Homo sapiens: one gene and its partners. Changing the gene in region 1 together with any one later gene gives a genetic interaction. Each region holds a gene or a part of one and is shown in the gene's direction. Other genes may lie near its edges.

Region 1 (4,773 bases):
GCACTTTGGGAGGCTGAGGCAGGTGGATCACCTGAGGTCAGAAGTTCAAGACCAGCCTGCCCAGCATGGCAAAACCCCATCTCTACTAAAAATACAAAAAAATAGCCAGGCATGGTGGTGGGCGCCTGTAATCCCAGCTACTCACGAGGCTGAGGCAGAATGGCTTGAACCTGGGAGGCGGAGGTTGCAGTGAGCCGAGATCATGCCATTGCACTCCAGCCTGGGAGATGAGTGAAACTCCATCTCAAAAAAAAATTGGCCGGGCATGGTGGCTCACCCCTGTAATCCCAGCATTTTGGGAGGCTGAGGCAGGCGGATAACGAGGTCAGGACATCGAGACCATCCTGGCTAATACGGTGAAACCCTGTCTCTACTAATAAAGTACAAAAAATTAGCCGGGCGTGGTGGCAGGTGCCTGTAGTCCCAGCTACTTGGGAGGCTGAGGCAGGAGAATGGCGTGAACCCGGGAGGCGGAGCTTGCAGTGAGCTGAGATCGCGCCACTGCTCTCCAGCCTGGGCAACAGAGCGAGACTCCATCTCAAAAAAAAAAAAAATTGAACTATTGTTTGCTATCTAGAGCTTGAACTCTCTTAGTATCTTTCGTGGGAGGTAGAAGATAAGAAAATCTGGGTGTTGGCCGGGCTCGGTGGCTCATGCCTGTAATTCCAGCATTTTGGGAAGCCGAGGCAGGTGGATCACCTGAAGTCAGGAGTTCGAGACCAGCCTGACCAACATGGAGAAAGCCCATCTCTACTAAAAATACAACATTAGCCGGGTGTGGTGGTACATGCCTGTAATCCCAGCTATTTGGGAGGCTGAGAAAGGAGAATTGCTTGAACCTGGGAGGCTGAGATTGCAGTGAGCCGAGATTTCACCATTGCACTCCAGCCTGGGCAACAAGAGTGAAACTCTGTCTCAAAAAAAAAAAAAAGAAAATCTGGGTGTTAGCTGGACATGGTGGTGCATGCCTCATAGTCTTAGGCACTCAGGAGGCTGAGGAAGGCAGATTGTTTGAGCTCAGGAGATTAAGGCTGCAGTAAGCTATGATCACACCACTGCATTCCAGCCAGGGTGCCAGAGCAATACCCTGTCTCAAGAAAATAAATTAAAGAAAAATAATATCTGGATGTTGCATAGTTCTAGTTTTGGGGACCCATAAATGTTTTCCTTTTAATCCTTACTAGATGATCACACAGCACTATTTGGCTCCAGTTCAAATCTAAAAGCTCAGAGTCTAACCTTTGTCTCTCTCACTTTCCATCTTCTTCCTTAGGCCGCCAGGCTACCCCAATATGAATCAAGGGGGCATGATGGGAACTGGACCTCCTTATGGACAAGGGATTAATAGTATGGCTGGCATGATCAACCCTCAGGGACCCCCATATTCCATGGGTGGAACCATGGCCAACAATTCTGCAGGTAAGTGCTAGTCATTCTCACTAGGGATTTCTTCAAGAGTCACATCACAGCTAAACTTACTGGACTTGAGAATTTTTTTCTCTTTTACAGGGATGGCAGCCAGCCCAGAGATGATGGGCCTTGGGGATGTAAAGTTAACTCCAGCCACCAAAATGAACAACAAGGCAGATGGGACACCCAAGACAGAATCCAAATCCAAGGTAGTGATTTTTGTCTTGACTCCTTTCAACTTTGTGTCCTATCTTTTTCAGTGATAGGAAGGAAAAAGAAAAGAGAGTGACAAGATCCCAGCCTTTTATGACACCGGACTAGATAGTCTCTGAAAAAGCTGCTGTTGCCTCCTCTTATCATGAAAGGTCCCAGAATAATAGCTCAGTGAGTTGGGTCTGGGTTGGTCTAAGGGATCCTGGTAAATAACATAATATTCTCACAGCTGTTTGTTATGGGGGAAATGCCAGACACTGCAGCATCAAACTCTCTGTACTGTTTGGCTGGTGCCCTCTGTGAAACCGTGCCTCCTATACTCAAGCATTGATAGATGGGGTGTGCCATGGGCAACTAGTTGCTCTTCTCTTCCTGAACCTTACTCATAGCAGCAGGAATGGTACCCTGTGTTCTGTAAAGAAGGAGATAAGGCAGATGAGGCTTGAGTCCTTGGCTTCCCTTAGGTTGGTCCTGGGTGTACTGTTAGGCTGTGCGGTAGTAAAGGGTCCTACTCAGCATTTGGGTCATTTGTAATATTTCTGTCCTTGGCCATACCTCACTTTCCCTATCTGTATACATAGGGAAAATAAAAATCATAGCTGTTAATTCCTGTGAGTCTTCACCTCTGGCTCCCAGCCCTTTTGACCACGTTCCTGTCTTGTACAGGATAATATCCAAAGCCCTTCAACCAGGTGGGAAACCTTTCCTTTGTTTAGAAGAGGCAAAGAGTTTCTTTTCATTTTAGTCCATCCCATTGCCTCAAGATCATGTTGTGAGTTTTTCGATTTCTCTAAAACATAGTACCTAAGTATGTTCAGGCTCCTGGGTAGTAGTGTGGGAGCAGTAGTGGCTTTGATGTCAGGTGGACAAGGATTTGATACTCAGCCTGCCACTTAAAAGCTGTGAGATCTTAGGCTTTGCCTCCTGGTGCCTGCTTCCTTATCTTTACAAATGGGGATAATTTTATAATACCTAATATATAAAGGCATCTAGCACAGCACCCAGTACATAACATATATTTAGTGTTAGCTTCCTTCCTTTATAGGAAAAAAAAATTTGGTTCTCTTTTGGCCCTTCAACCTTATGAAGGTAGGACAGGTGTTAGTAACCACCCCAGAGTAAGAAGCTTTAACACTGCTCCAGTCAAGAGACTTCTGAGACCCTTAGCACAGGCTTTGAATCTGACCCATTCCTATGAATTTTGACCTGAACCTTCCAGAAATCCAGTTCTTCTACTACAACCAATGAGAAGATCACCAAGTTGTATGAGCTGGGTGGTGAGCCTGAGAGGAAGATGTGGGTGGACCGTTATCTGGCCTTCACTGAGGAGAAGGCCATGGGCATGACAAATCTGCCTGCTGTGGGTAGGAAACCTCTGGACCTCTATCGCCTCTATGTGTCTGTGAAGGAGATTGGTGGATTGACTCAGGTGAGTGGGCGCCTGACACTTGACTGCCCCTGTGGTTTCCACAAACCCCTTTCTAGGTACTCACTGGCTTCATGTGGTACCATGCATCCCACAGGGACATCATCCCCTCTCCCGCTTTCTGAGTCTAATATTGATAGACCGGGGAGCACAGGTTTCCCAGAAGATAAGGCAGGAAGCAGAGACCTCCCTGGTAGTATGAGGTATTAGCAGTAAGTTTACCGTGTATCTATGGTCCCACTGAGGTGTAAAGCTAGGGAAAGTCTGTGGGCATTCTGATTCCATGGGAGGCAATTTGGCATAGTAGCAAAGACAGGATTTGGAGAGATGGACCTGGTTTTGAATCCCTTCTTGGCCACTTATAACATATATGACCTTAAGGTGTGTAACCACTCTGAACCTTAATTTCATTATTTGTAAAATACAAACAGTATGTAACAGTATATAACCCACTAGACTGTCAAAAGTTAGAAATAACTTTGGCTTTCAGCAAGGTTTCTGCCACATAAATCGGCCTGCAAGATGGTACAGAGGCAGCCAGAGTAGAAGTAGATCTTCCCATTCCTGGAAGCTTCCCAGTAGAGATAGGATTTCAGGAACTGCTTAGTAGAAATAGTTTATAATAAAGGAAGAAGTAGTAGGAAATTATGTGTTTAGTTATTCTGTATGGGAAACTTAAATGAAAACCTGAATTGGACACCACCCAGAGCTTGTGCCTACTCTGATACCTTACAATTTTGTAGACTCAGCCCAGGAAGCAAACAGGTGAGGCAGCACAGACAGACAGCAGACTGTGCCTTGCAGACTTCCCTCCTGTGTATGTTCTGTAGTCACCAGACCAGAAGCCTGCTGTTGGATCAGTTTGTGGCTGAGCTCGGGGAGGTGTGGCAGGGAGGGATTTATTCCAAACCTTCTAAATCAGAAGAGGAAAACAGCTGTCACCAGCAGAAAAGAAAGTGGTTGGAATGAAGCCAGCCAACAGTCAGTTATGAATTCCTTCTCCCTTCAGGCTTTATTCCCCTCCCCCACAAAGGAAAACAAAACAAAATAAGACACGTGCATACTGCCACATAACTGGCATGAGAAGCAAAGCCACGGAAGGCTTTTGAGGTGACTCCATGCATATTCCTGCCATTCTCCCTGATACTCAGATCTCATAGTCAAGCCTTCCCTGTCTATAGGGAAAGGGAGCATTGGGTTAGGTTTCGCTCACTTCTGATTGGGTGGGCTTCAGGGTTCACTGAACCTAGGATGAGGTACAGAGAGAATTCTAATGCCTGAGCCTGTCTTCCAGATTGGAAAAGGATGCAAACCTTTAAAATGCCGTGATTGTAACTGAACTTTTATAAAGGCAGTGATAATTCAGGGGCAAAAGAGTGCTATTTATAAGTTAGTTTGTGAAGGCTCCAAGAAAGCAAAGCTGAATCTTGAGCTTATCTAAAGGATTAGTAGGGTTTAGGTGGAAGAGTGGCCAATCCAGTAGACTGGCCTAGATGCCACGGAGATGGGAGAGAGTCTAGATATTTCCCACCAAGGCCATCTCCAACCATGAAGACTTAGCTCAGGTGTTACCCACTCTAAGAAGTATTCCTAGTCACCTCTGCCCCTCTAGGTTGTCCCCCTCTGTGCCTCTTTAAACTCTTCTTTCTAGTATCATAGGTATCATATCAGCAGACATTACAACCTATTGAACTTCCTTTGTGTATAGGGACTTGAAAACCCTT
Region 2 (4,958 bases), on another chromosome or scaffold:
ATTACTGGGCCTTAGTGGGCCAGGGCTGCCCTGAGAAGCTGCTCCAGGCCTGCAGCAGGAGTGGTGCAGACAGAAGTCTCCTCAATTTTTGTCTCAGAAGTGAAAATCTTGGAGACCCTGCAAACAGAACAGGGTCATGTTTGCAGGGGTGACGGCCCTCATCTATGAGGAAAGGTTTTGGATCTTGAATGTGGTCTCAGGATATCCTTATCAGAGCTAAGGGTGGGTGCTCAGAATAAGGCAGGCATTGAGGAAGAGTCTTGGTTTCTCTCTACAGTGCCAACTCCTCACACACCCTGAGGTCAGGGAGTGCTGGCTCACAGTACAGCATGTGCCTTAATGCTTCATATGAGGAGGATGTCCCTGGGCCAGGGTCTGTGTGAATGTGGGCACTGGCCCAGGTTCATACCTTATTTGCTAATCAAAGCCAGGGTCTCTCCCTCAGGTGTTTTTTATGAAGTGCGTGAATGTATGTAATGTGTGGTGGCCTCAGCTGAATGCCTCCTGTGGGGAAAGGGGTTGGGGTGACAGTCATCATCAGGGCCTGGGGCCTGAGAGAATTGGCTCAATAAAGATTTCAAGATCCTCCTGCTGTTGGAATCTTTTATACATATAAAGTTTTTGTAGAGACATGAGTCTCTCTGTGTTGCCCAGGATCCTCCCAACTTGGCCTCCCAAAGTGTTGGGATTACAGGTGTGAGCCACCCTGCCCAGCCTGGACTCTTTATTATTATAGGCGCAGAGCTGCAGTTGCCCCTCATGGTGCCAGAAGTTGCCAAGGGTGATGGACAGGCTCCCAGGTGTCTTGCAAAGTCACCATGGACCAATTTGTGAAGATGTAGTATGCATACATACTTGGTCATCACTCAGCTCCCTGGGGCTCAGGTTGTGGTGGAGACAAAAATGGACTGCAGTTAGAACTTAGGGAAACTGGCTGGGCATAGTGGCTCACACCTGTAATCCCAACACTTTGGTTGGGCTAGGTGGGCAGATCACTTGAGGCCAGGAGTTCGAGGCCAGCCTGGCCAGCATGGCGAAACCCCATCTCTACCAAAAATACAAAAAAAATTTAGCTGGGCGTGGTGGTGGGCGCTTGTAGTCCCAGCTACTCAGAAGGCTGAGGCAGGAGAATCGCTTGAACCCGGCAGGCAGAGGTTGCAGTGAGTGGAGATCACACCACTGCACTCCGATAGAGCAAGACTCCAACTCAAAAAAAAAAAAAACGGCCGGGCGCAGTGGCTCAGGCCTGTAATCCCAGCACTTTGGGAGGCCAAGGCGGGTGGATCACCTGAGGTCCGGAGTTCAAGACTGCCTGACCAACATGGTGAAACCCCGTCTCTACTAGAAATACAAAAAAATTAGCCGGCATGGTGGCAGATGCCTGTAATCCCAAGTACTCGGGAGGCTGAGGCAGGAGAATCGCTTGAACCCTGGAGGCAGAGGCTGCAGTGAGCCGAGATCGTGCCACTGCACATTATCCTGGGCGACAAGAGTGAAACTCCATCTCAAAAAAAAAAAAAAACAAAACCATCCCTTCAACACACACACACCACGCTCTGGGAGAAGGTGTGGCATAACTCCTTCACCAAATACAGAGCTGCCACCGTGGACCAGACACTGCTCGTGATACCGAGGGTATAGCTGTTAACAATTCTTGCTTTCATTAAGCATGGACTCTGCTGGGTTTGAAAACACTGAATTCGAAGTTCTTCAGAACTGAATGTAACTATGTGAATCTGGCCAGTTCCTTAATTTTCTTTCAACTTGGTTAGTTCACATAAGCGTGGCAATCGCAAAAATACAGCTGTGAAAATAGAAGCCAGATGGGCACCCGGCGGTCTGGCCTTAGGCCCTGAAGTGCAGGTTTGAGGATTGGTGCTTGCGAAGTCCTGCTAGGCCTGAACTCAGGTGTTGGGGGACGTCAGAGCCGCCAAATACACCCAAAAGACCGGGAGGACTCACGGCCACCACTTTCCTCGGTGGGAGCTGTCCCAGCTGGTCAGATCGCGCTTGCTGGGACCTGGGATCTCGCAACGCATGCTGGGATGCCCAGCATCTAAGGGCGCCCATTGGTCCCGCCCCCACGACTTGAGCAACAGCCAATCAGAGGTGGCAGCGTGCGGAAGCGGAAGTGAGGTTTCCGTGGAGACAGCCGAGCCTGCGGAAGGCGGCGGCGGCGGCACCTGCGATCAGCGGCTGGGGCAGGTTATGGTAGTGCGGACTGCGGTGTGAGCAGAGCGGCCACGGGGCCCGCCATGCGCCGGCGGCCCTGACATGGGCGCCAGCGGGTCCAAAGCTCGGGGCCTGTGGCCCTTCGCCTCGGCGGCCGGAGGCGGCGGCTCAGAGGCAGCAGGAGCTGAGCAAGCTTTGGTGCGGCCTCGGGGCCGAGCTGTGCCCCCCTTCGTATTCACGCGCCGCGGGTAAGGGCATGGGTTCCACCCTGGCGGGGGGAACAGGCGGGCGGCCAGGCGTCCCGCGCCACGGGGGAACTTCCACCGCTGTACCCCACTACAGCCAAGCCAGGACGACCCCCATATTTTGAGCCTCATTGGAGCTGGGGGTGGAGAAAGCCGGGCAGTGGTCTCCTGGCGGCCTGGCCACTCTGAAAGTCTCCCTAGGGAAGAGTGGGCCTGAGGCTTGTCACTGGTCGGACCTTCCGCACGGTAAAGCTAAGCTAGGGCCTCCATAAGACCTCCATAAGATCTCTTCCTTTCATCCCTTCCGGCTCAGCCTGCATACTGAAGGGTCCTAGCCTCCCTTTCCCCCCCAGTTATTCCAAGGGGATAATAACCCTCTGTTTAGGCTGCTTTTCCTGACAGTAGTGGGGCTGAACCTTTGAGCGTAGTGGCTGGGAAAGCAGGGATAGGCCTCAGTATTGGGGGTGAGGCTGAGGAAAAAAGACCCTCACCCAGTTATGTTCTCCAGATCCAGAGCGCTGACCTACCCACCCAACCCCCAGCCCAGTCTCCCAGAGGCCCGCACAAGAGTACCAGATTGGCTTGGCTCTAGTGGGCTCCTGGAGATGGGCGCTCCCTGTGCTAGAGATTTGGCTGTAGACACCAGGAAGACCCAACAGTGGCAATTCACCAGCCACCTGGGGTGTGGGGTCAGGGGAGACGCAGCCTTCATTCCTTTGTGCTTCTTCCTAGCTTAGGCTTCTGCTATTTCAGTCTTTGACACTGGGCCAGCAGCATCTTCTGGAGTGAGACCAACATGCCCAGGCCACCACCCTGCCCACTCTAGAAGTCCTGGGTGAAGGCAAAGTCCTGATATTAGAATGGCTGCCCTTGCTGAACAAATCAAGGATGAGAACTGGCCTTGGTGGCTGCCTGGATGGTGTGCTCTGGTGTGGGCTCTCTTCTTGGGGGTCTGACATAGTAGCACTGCCCACCCATCACCTCACTTCCCACTTTCTTCTAGTAGACCCCAAACCCCAGGCAAAGGATTCTCCAGGCAGGCCAGGCACCGTGGCTCACGCCTGTAATCCTAACACTTTGGGAGATGAAGACGAGTGGATTGCCTGAGTTCAGGAGTTCGAGACCAGCCAGAGCAACATGGCAAAACCCCGTCTCTACTAAAATACAAAAAATTAGCAGGGTGTGGTGGTGCATGTCTGTAGTCCCAGCTACTTGGGAGGCTGAGGCAGGAGAATTGCTTGAACCCAGGAGGCAGAGGTTGCAGCAAGCTGAGATCGCGCCACTGCACCTCCAGCCTGGGCAACAGAGTGAGATTCTGTCTCGAAAAATTTTTTTTAAAAAAAGGATTCTCCAGGCATATTATCCTCTTTTCTTCCCACTTGGGGTTGGGAAGACCACAGACTTCCCCGTGACCTGTGACATTTGCCATGCCCAGGTGTGGGGCTCCAGCCCAGCCTGTTTCCTTCTCCCTCTACACAGCTCTATGTTCTATGATGAGGATGGGGATCTGGCTCACGAGTTCTATGAGGAGACAATCGTCACCAAGAACGGGCAGAAGCGGGCCAAGCTGAGGCGAGTGCATAAGAATCTGATTCCTCAGGTGAGGGGCTGGGCAGCGGTCACAGAGCCTACACTAAGCGTGTGGAGGTGGACCCAGATGGGATCTGTTGTCATGGTGGGGGCTTTTGCGGGGGGATCTGGGAGGAACAAGGAAGCTTCCTGAAGTAGAGGCCCTGAGCTGACCCTTACTAGCCTCTGTTTCCATGGCAGGGCATCGTGAAGCTGGATCACCCCCGCATCCACGTGGATTTCCCTGTGATCCTCTATGAGGTGTGACCCTGGGAGGTGGCAGACAGAAGCACCCCCTGCCCCGGCAAGAAACTCCCAGGCTCAATCAAGGTGTGGCTTCCATTGAGGAGCCCAGGCTGGGGCCACAACCCTGAATAAACTCTGTTGGCCCATAACCTTCAGCTGTGAGCGGGTCGGTCCCACAGTATTGGTTGGGTGTTGGTTTGTGTGTGGACAAGAGGTGGTTGGTGGGTGGTGAAGGCTAATGGCAGAGTTAGCACCCCACTCTCCCAAGCCACCCCTGCAAGCAGCACAGCAGGGCATATACCAGTCAGGAATGCCCGTTACCTGGTTCCTTGCCTGGTCTGCTTTCTTCCAAGTTTGCCTGGGGCCTAGCCCTGCTAGAGGCTACAGCACTTTACAAGCAAGGTATGCTTTCTTCCAGCCCCTAGGCTGTGGGCACTGTATACAAGTAGGAACTTCCTTTCCTTCACTTCCCTTTTAACCCCTAGTCAGAGCATTTCAGCCGTTTGCTACCTCGATTCCTCCTGTGTTGGACAGAGGCTGGGGGCAGTGCCAGCCTGATTCTTCCGACCTACCTGCCATTTGTTCCCGCCTTCAGATGGATGGACAGTTTGCTGGCTATTGATAGGAGTGGGGACTGGGTGGGGGCTTCTCCCTCTACCCAGGGCTGGGCTGATCCCCCTACTGCAACTAACTGTTGCCCCCCAACCCCGAACCCCCAGTTGAGGA
Region 3 (4,770 bases), on another chromosome or scaffold:
CTCGCGTTACGAGGCAGCCGTGCCCGACCCCCGGGAGCCGGGGGAGTTTGCCCTGCTGCGGTCCTGCCAGGAGGTCTTTGACAAGCTAGCCAGGGTGGCCCAGCCCGGGATTAATTATGCGCTGGGCACCAATGTCTCCTACCCCAATAACCTGCTGAGGAATCTGGCTCGTGAGGGGGCCAACTATGCCCTGGTGATCGATGTGGACATGGTGCCCAGCGAGGGGCTGTGGAGAGGCCTGCGGGAAATGCTGGATCAGAGCAACCAGTGGGGAGGCACCGCGCTGGTGGTGCCTGCCTTCGAAATCCGAAGAGCCCGCCGCATGCCCATGAACAAAAACGAGCTGGTGCAGCTCTACCAGGTTGGCGAGGTGCGGCCCTTCTATTATGGGTTGTGCACCCCCTGCCAGGCACCCACCAACTATTCCCGCTGGGTCAACCTGCCGGAAGAGAGCTTGCTGCGGCCCGCCTACGTGGTACCTTGGCAGGACCCCTGGGAGCCATTCTACGTGGCAGGAGGCAAGGTGCCCACCTTCGACGAGCGCTTTCGGCAGTACGGCTTCAACCGAATCAGCCAGGTGCTCATAAGGGAGAGGGCAGGGGTAATGGGGCAGGAGGGGTGGTGGGATCAGGGAGTTATGAGGAGTGGCCCTGGATGGAAAGGAGGCAATGAAGCAGGAGGGATCATAGTTCAGGAGGTGGGTGGATGGTGTGGAAGATCCAGGATACTTCCAGAGGGGTGAGGACGCTGGACTGTGGCTTTAGGGAAGTCAGTCTCAGGCCTGTCAATGTCATCAAACTTTGCTAACCTGTCTTTCCTCCTGCAGGCCTGCGAGCTGCATGTGGCGGGGTTTGATTTTGAGGTCCTGAACGAAGGTTTCTTGGTTCATAAGGGCTTCAAAGAAGCGTTGAAGTTCCATCCCCAAAAGGAGGCTGAAAATCAGCACAATAAGATCCTATATCGCCAGTTCAAACAGGAGTTGAAGGCCAAGTACCCCAACTCTCCCCGACGCTGCTGAGCCCTTCCCTCCCCTAATCTGAGAAGTCAGCCTCTTGGCTCCTCAGGCCACCATTTAGGCCTGACTGGGGTAAGAAATGTCGCTCCACTTTACAGAGGTAGCTGTGGTGTTGAAACACTGGACTTGGATATGGGGTGCTGGGATCGATTCCTAGCTTTACCACTAACTAGCTGTGTGGCCTTGAGTAAATCCCGTTACCTCTCTGAGCCTCGGTTACCCTGTCTGTAAAAAGGGAGGTGAGAATACCTACCTCACGGAACTGTTGGGAGGCTCAGATGAGATGCTATATGTGAAAACATTCTGTAAGCTTCGTACAAATGTGAAGTATTAATATTATCGCAGTATTATTGTTGTTATTATTATTGTTATTATTAACAATCTTGGGTGGGTAGTAGGAGAGCAAAAAGTATGAATGGGATGGAGCTAAGAAGTCTGAATACTTAATGAAATGGACTTTTTGGAAAGAAATCAGATGAAGGCATAAAATTTAGTTCTTAGCTCTTGAACAGAAGCCTAAAATTCCTGGTTCTCTCAGGGCTTCGCCTTCAAGGGTTCTGGAGGAGGGAAGGGTCTGCAGGTTCCATGGGTGACAGCCTGAGATCTGTCCCTTCAACGGGCTGGGCTGGGTATGTGCCTACCGATGACAATGTGTAAATAAATGCGTGTTCACACCCACAGCTGGCTCCGTTACTCTCCTGAGCTGGGGGTGGGGGGATCGGGGCCGGCTTCTCCCCTTGCACGCCGTGGGGAGATGGCCGCGGACGAAGGGCACCGTCTGCAAAGCACTGAACCATCAGGGCCTTCCCTGCAGGCCGAAGGCCTGCGCGAATGTCGGCCAGTTACTATGGAGACCGGCCCGCGGTATCCCAGCATGCCTCGGGACCAAACTGTCCAACTGTGAGCATCCCCGACGGTCGCCTCCTGATGACGCACACGGAAGCACCGATAGGCTCTGCCTCCCGAAGAAAAGGGAGCCGCGCAGCGCCTACGGGAGTCCGGCGGCAGCAGCCGGTACCGGCAACCACGGGCAGCTCTCAGGGAATCTCCGTCGTGAGGCCAGAGGCTCCAGTCCCCGCGGTGCGTATCGTCATGCATGGCTTTTGGTTCGCCCTCTCCGGTTAGTCGAGCAGGGCCGGCACAACCTCCTCCTCCGAGGCCGAAGCAGAGATTTAACCGGCCTGACGCGTGCTGGGCTGCGGGCGAGCCAGTGATATTCCGGCCCGCTCCGGCGCATCTAGAAGGGAGCGGGAGGCCCCCTGGGCGCTGCGGAGAAGCTGGATTGACCTCTGCGAGAGTGGGGAGGGTCTGCCTTCCCTAGGGGCCTGCCCCGGAGGAGCTGCCATTCTGAAAAGATAAATTGCCTGTGTACAGCGCTTTACAGTGTGCTTTTCCATCCCTTACCACCTGTGAGCTCCTCAACACTCAGAGCAGGAATGGTTATCCGCTTTTTGCACCCGGGGTAAGGTGGGAAGGTTGTGACTTAACTCACTCATAATCAGAACCAGGGGGAGGAAAGAAAGGCTTCTGGAAGAGATAGACTTAAGCTGCATCTTACAAAGTGAATATACTAACAGTGAAGAGGCATTGCAAATGTTGGGAACTGAGGCTTGATAACGGGAAGATGAAGCTGGTTTAGAGAACCGAGCCTTTCAAGTCAGGTGCAGGTCATTAGTGAAATTGTTGAGGAATATGACTAAACACTCACCTAGGCCAGGCTTACTATACACAACTTGAACTGGTGTCAAGGAAAGCTTGCTACCATTACAGGGACCTGGGACTACCGAAAAGTAAAAACTAATGTCTGTCTCACAAAAAATTTTTTTGTTAAATTTGTATTTGCAAATCCTCCAGTCATCAAGTGAACCAGCACTGTGCTAGGTAAATAAGTTACATGTGCAGCCCCTGCCCTAGTGAGGCTCATAGACTGATTGCGGGGACAGATATGAGAACAGGCAAATAGATATAAACAAAGCTTCCTGGAGGGAGTGGTGTCTGCACTGTTCTAAAGGACTACAAAGCAGTGTCCAGAGAAGTTGGAAGAACACAATAAAATAGAAGCCTGCAGGAGGTTGAGAGATTATCTGCTGAGAGGACTGTTTTCTTCTTCTTAGGTGATCTCTTGGCAGTACTTGGCACTATCAGTGCAATTACTCCTTGGCAGTACTTGGCTTTCTTCTAAAACTCTTTCTCCACCACTTCGGGTTTTGCCTCCTCCTTTGTAGGGGTCTCCTCATCTGCCCCTTTGGTGACCCTGGGCGTCTTCTGATCGCACACATTGTGCCTTGCTGGTTGCACCTTCTCCTGTGGCATGAAGAACTTGCTGTATGCTGACGACCAAATCCCTGCAGCTCAGATTTCTCACTGAGACTTAGACCCATGTTCCCCCAGCTGCTTTCCTTCTCTTATTTCTGGGTCTTTGCTACTGACTCTACCTGGAATGTTCCCTCAATAAGTGCAGCTCACCCAGCTGGTCCATCTTTGTCTGGAAGCCTCCCTGCTGCATCGGGCTCCAGGTCCTGGTTATATACCCCTCCCTTATGCCCCTGGTCTTAACTCTCCTCCTATCATGGTTATAGTGTGCTCCTTTGCCCCTGTCTCCCAGGAACTTGTAAACTCCGTGAGGTCAAAGACATTCACACTTGGGCGCCTGCATACCATAGCGTCTGACGGTACCTAGCATATGTTAGATGTTCAATACATGTTAGATGAGTCAGTAAAAGAAGGAATGCTTACCAGTGTTGGATGTTGCCGAGCAGACAATTAAAATAAGCACTGAAAAATATTGGCATTAGCCACAAGGAAGTCATTGGTTAATGCTACGGGATCAGTTTCAGCTGAGATTGAGGACATCGAACAAGTGGGAGGTGAAAGTAGGAACAGCCAGTGTTCATGAGACCTTGAAAAGTGTAACTGTGAAGTGGCAAATGGAGCAGTTAGGTGGAATGGGTGAGGTTTTGTGTTTCTGTGTTTTGTTAATGCTAGGAAGTACCCAAGCACATCCAAAGTTTCATGGGAAGGAGGTTGCTAAGAGTTAGAAGCTGAAGACACAGAAAAGAGAGGGGAGCACTGATGACCTGCGGTCCAAGAGGAAGCAGAAGGAGATGGGATTTGACCCAGAGCACAATGAAAGACAAGGAGATTGTAACATTATCTGGAAGAGAAGCCGAGGACATTATAGGCAGAAGGAACAGCTGAGGCAGAGGGTGGATAGTGGAAGTGCAAGCACTAGCCATTATATGTTGGGATGAAGGAGCTGGACCGGTAGGTCAAGTCCAGTCTGGGAAAGACCTTGAAAGCCCCAGTTAGAAATTTAGGTCCAGTTTGGGTGTGGTGCGGGCGCCTGTAATCTCACTACTCAGGAGGCTGAGGCAGGAGAATCGCTTGAACCCAGGAGGAGGAGGTTGCAGTGAGCTGAGATCGTGCCACTGCACTCCAGCTTGTCAACAGAGCGAGACTCTGTCTCAAAAAATAATAAGAAGAAAAGAAATTTAGGTCCAGTTGCAAAGGCAGTGGAGAGTGCCCCCTGGGCCTTTCCTTTCTGTGGATCACAGCCTTGGCCAGTATTGCTAGGATTAGGATCACCAGTGACATCCAAGAGCAGGAGCAGTTCCACAGCTCCCAGCCTTCTGTGAGAGGTGCAGATGGCCATTTGCACCCTTGTCACCCAGTTTGTGCTCAAGGTGTGGCCAGGCCAGTTACTTCCCTGGCTTTCCCCATCTGGGATCGAGTTGTGTTCAGCATCCTGCTGCCTC
Region 4 (4,216 bases), on another chromosome or scaffold:
CTGGATAGATCAAACCAGCCATAACATTCCCTTAAGCCAAAACCTTATCCAGAGCAAGGCCCTAAGTCTTCAATTCTTTGAAGCCTAAGAGAGGTGAGGAAGTTGCAGAAGAAAATTTGGAAGCTAGCAGAGGTTCTTTTAAGAAAAGAAGCCATCGGCCGGACGCGGTGGCTCATGCCTGTGATCCCAGCACTTCGGTAGGCCAAGACGGGCGGATCACCTGAGGACCAACATGGAGAAATCTCGTCTCTACTAAAAATACAAAATTAGCTGGGCGTGGTGGAGCATGCCTGTGATCCCAGGTACTTGGGAGGCTGAGGCAGGAGAATCACTTGAACCCGGGAGGTGGAGGTTGCAGTGAGCTGAGATCGCGCTATTGCACTCCAGCCTGGGCAACAAGAGTGAAACTCTGTCTCAAAAAAAAAAAAAGGAAGAAAAGAAGCCATCTCCATAATAAAGTACAAGGTGAAGCAGCAAGTGCTGATGTAGAAGCTGCAGTAAGTTTTCTAGAAGATCTAGCTAAGCTCACTGATGAAGGTGGCTACACTAAACAATAGGTTTTCAAGGTAGAAGAAACAGACTTACATTGGAAGATGCCATCTATGACATCTAGTTGAGCCATTTCTCACTTACTATTCTAAAAATCCAATGGCCCTTAAGACTTATGCTAAATCTACTCTGCCTGTGATCTATAAATGGAACAACAAAGCCCTGGATGACAGCACATCTATTTACAGCATGGTTTACTGAATAAGCCCACTGTTGAGACCTACTGCTCAGAAACATTTTTTTTTTCTAGAGGCAGGGTCTCGCTCTATCTCCCAGGGTGAAGTACAGCGGCACCATCATGGCTCACTGCAGCCTTAATCTCCTGCGCTTGAGCAGCCTTCCTCCCTCAGCCTCCCGAATAGCTGGGACAAAGACAGATGCCACCATGCCCAGCTAATTTTTTTTCCTTTCTCTCTCTATTATCTGTCTGTCTATCTATCTATATGTGTGTGTTTTGTTTTGGTTTGTTTTTTTTTTTTCTTTTTGGTAGAGACGAGGTGTCACTGTGTTGCCCAGGCTGATCTCGAACTCCTGGGCTCAAGTGAGCCCTTCCAAAGTGCTGGGATTACAGGCCTGAGCCACCTCACTGGTCAATATTTTTCCTTTTTCTTTTCTTTTTTGAGACAGTGTTTCACTTTGTCAGGCTGGAGTGCACTGGTATGATCTCAGCTCACTGCTGCCTCTACTTCCTGGGCTCAAACAATCCTCCCATCTCAGCTCCCCAAGTAGCTTGAACTACAGGTGCACACCACTACACCCAGCTAACTTTTTGTATTTTTTGCAGAGATGGGGTTTCACCATGTTGCCCAGGCTCGTCTCAAATTCCTGACCTCAAGCGATCCACCTGTCTTGGCCTCCCAAAGTGCTAGGATTACAGACATGAGCCACTGCACCCACCCATTATTTTTCTTTTTTTTTTTTCTTATTTATTTATGTTTGAGACGGAGTTTCACTCTGTCTCCCATGCTGGAGTGTAGTGGCACAATCTCAGCTCACTGCAACCTCAGCTTCCCGGGTTCGAGTGATTCTCCTGCTTCAGCCACCCAAGTAGCTGGGATTACAGGTGCACACCATCATGCCCTGCTAATTTTTATATTTTTAGTAGAGATGGGGTTTTGCCACATTGGCCAGGCTGGTCTTGAACTCCTGGCCTCAAGTGATCTGCTCTCTTTGGCCTCCCAAAGTGTTGGGATTACAGGCGTGAGCACCATGCCCGGCTTTTTTTTTAAATGTATTTTTGGAGAGATGGGGTCACTGTGTTGCTCAGGCCGGCCTGGAATTCCTAGGCTCAAGCAATCCTCCTACCTTTGCCTCCCAAAGTTCTGGGATTACAGACATGAGCCCCTGTGCCCAACCTTAATGTTGTTTTCATGCCTGCTGATGTAACATCTATTCTGCAGCCAGTTGAGTAGTTGATTTTTTTTTTTTTTTGAAACAGGGTCTCACTCTGCCTCTCAGGCTGTAGTGCAGTAGCATGATCTCATCTCACTGCAACCTCCACCTTTCAGGCTCAAGCAATCCTCCTACCTCAACCTGCCAAGTAGCTGGGACTTAAGGTGTGTGCTACCATACCCTGCTAATTTTTTGTATTTTTAGTAGAGATGGGTTTTTGCTGTGTTGCCCAGGCTGTTTTTGAACTCCTGTGCTCAAGCAATCTGCCTGCCTTGGCCTCCCAAAGTGCTAGGATTATAGGCGTGAGCCACCATGCCCAATCAGTTTTGACTTTTAAGTCTTGTTATTTAAGAAATACATTTCATAAGGCTATATCTGCCATAGATAGTGATTCTTCTGATGGATCTGGGCAAAGTAAATTGAAACCATTCTAGATGCTATTAAGAACATTCATGATTCATGGGAGGAGGTCAAGATATCAACATTAACAAGAGTTTGGAAGAATTAGATTCCAACTCCAATGGATAACTTTGAGGGGTTCAAGACTTCATTGGAAAAAGTAACTGCAGATGTCATGGGAATAGCAAGAGAACTAGAAGTGGAGCCTGAGCATGTGATTGAATTGCTGCATGATATCTCATGATACAACTTGAGTGGATGAGGAGTTACTTCTCATGGATGAGCAGAGAAAGTGGTTTCTTTTGAGATGCACTCTGCTAATGAAGATGCTGTGAATATTGTTGAAATGACAACAAAGGATTTAGAATATTATATAAACTTAGTTAATAATCAGTGGCAGGGTTTGAGAAGAAGGATTGACTCTAGTTTTGAAAGTTTTACTGTGGGTAAAATCCTATCAAACAGCATTGCATACTAGAGGAATCTTTTGTGAAAGGAAGAGCCCATCAATGTGGCAAGCTTCATTGTTGTTTTATTTTAAGCAATTGCCACAGTCTTGCCAGGCGCAGTGGCTCATGCCTGTAATCCCAGCGTTTTGGGAGGCTGAGGCGGGCGGGTCACCTGAGGTCAGGAGTTCAAGACCCGCCTGGCCAACATGGGGAAACCCCGTCTCTACTAAATATACAAAAATTAGCCAAGTGTGGTGGTGGGCACCTGTGATCCCAGCCACTTAGGAGGCTGAGGCAGGAGAATCACTTGAACCCAGGAGGCGAAGGTTGTAGTGAGCCAAGATCACACCATTGCACTCCAGCCTGGGTGACAAGAGTGAGACTCCATCTCAAAAAAAAAAAAAAACCAGTTTGCCACAAGTCACCCCAATCTTCAGCACCCATAAACCTGATCAATCAACAGCCATCAACATTGAAGCAAAATCCTCCACCAGCAAAAAGATTAGGACTTGCCGAAGGTGCAGATGATCATTAGCTTTGTTTTAGCGATAAAGTATTTTAAAATGAAGGTGTACGCTGTCTTTTTAGACATAGTAGTATTGCACGTTTTATAGTATAGTGTAAACATAACTTTTTTTTTTTTTTGAGACGGAGTCTCGCTCTGTCGCCCAGGCTGGAGGGCAGTGGCGCTATCTCGGCTCACTGCAAGCTCACCTTCCGGGTTCACACCATTCTTCTGCCTCAGCCTACCGAGTAGCTGACCCTACAGGCGCCCCTCACCAAGCCCGGCTAATTTTTTTTGTATTTTTAGTAGAGATGGGGTTTCACCATGTTAGCCAGGGTGGTCTCGATCTCCTGACCTCGTGATCCGCCCGCCTCGGCCTCCAAAGTGCTGGGATTACAGGCGTGAGCCACCGCGGCCGGCCAGTGTAAACATAACTTTTACATGCTCTGGGAAATCAAAAAATTCATGTGACTCACTTTATTGCGATATTCACTTCATTATGGTGGTCTAAACCCACAATATCTCTAAGGTATGCCTGCACTAAAATCGAATGATACAGGAAGCTTAGCATGGTCCACGCACAAGGATAGCATGCAAATTTATGAAACACTTCATATATTTAAAAACGAATGTTTTTAATTGTAGTTAATGCTCTGTTTCTCAAACCAGAAACCCCTGGGATATGAGAGGGAAGTTACAGGATAAATGCAGATATATTCAACAAAACATTTACTAATTGCTTTATTATGTACCAGGTACTGTTGCTAGGCTAGAAGGGAGGAAAAAATAGATATGATCCCTAGCCCTGTGAAGTGTGTAGTTCAGTAAGTATAACAGTACAAGAAACAAATCAATGCAAATATATAGTTACATAACTACAATTTGGATTAAGTATTAGGAAGAAGAGGCTGGGTGTGGTGGC

Evidence for each region.
Region 2: changes in ARID1A (region 1) and TUSC2 together harm fitness more than expected from each alone (negative genetic interaction), as found in Homo sapiens cells (one large-scale study listed by BioGRID).
Region 3: changes in ARID1A (region 1) and BRMS1 together harm fitness more than expected from each alone (negative genetic interaction), as found in Homo sapiens cells (one large-scale study listed by BioGRID).
Region 4: changes in ARID1A (region 1) and ALG8 together harm fitness more than expected from each alone (negative genetic interaction), as found in Homo sapiens cells (one large-scale study listed by BioGRID).

The regions. Positions count from the first base shown.
Region 1 is NC_000001.11:26,764,948-26,769,720, forward strand, and holds part of ARID1A (AT-rich interactive domain-containing protein 1A), read left to right. Parts: intron 1-1,273; coding exon 1,274-1,419; intron 1,420-1,509; coding exon 1,510-1,619; intron 1,620-2,842; coding exon 2,843-3,052; intron 3,053-4,773. UniProt on the Homo sapiens protein: Involved in transcriptional activation and repression of select genes by chromatin remodeling (alteration of DNA-nucleosome topology).
Region 2 is NC_000003.12:50,325,416-50,330,373, reverse strand, and holds the start of TUSC2 (tumor suppressor candidate 2), read left to right. Parts: upstream 1-2,150; 5' UTR 2,151-2,274; coding exon 2,275-2,420; intron 2,421-3,896; coding exon 3,897-4,017; intron 4,018-4,187; coding exon 4,188-4,253; 3' UTR 4,254-4,958. UniProt on the Homo sapiens protein: May function as a tumor suppressor, inhibiting colony formation, causing G1 arrest and ultimately inducing apoptosis in homozygous 3p21.3 120-kb region-deficient cells.
Region 3 is NC_000011.10:66,342,297-66,347,066, reverse strand, and holds the start of BRMS1 (breast cancer metastasis-suppressor 1), read left to right. Parts: upstream 1-1,962; 5' UTR 1,963-2,095; intron 2,096-4,770. Other genes in the region: B4GAT1 (beta-1,4-glucuronyltransferase 1), read left to right, coding at 1-577, 827-1,018. UniProt on the Homo sapiens protein: Transcriptional repressor. Down-regulates transcription activation by NF-kappa-B by promoting the deacetylation of RELA at 'Lys-310'. Promotes HDAC1 binding to promoter regions.
Region 4 is NC_000011.10:78,133,119-78,137,334, reverse strand, and holds part of ALG8 (dolichyl pyrophosphate Glc1Man9GlcNAc2 alpha-1,3-glucosyltransferase), read left to right. Parts: intron 1-1,987; exon of another isoform or gene 1,988-2,105; intron 2,106-4,216.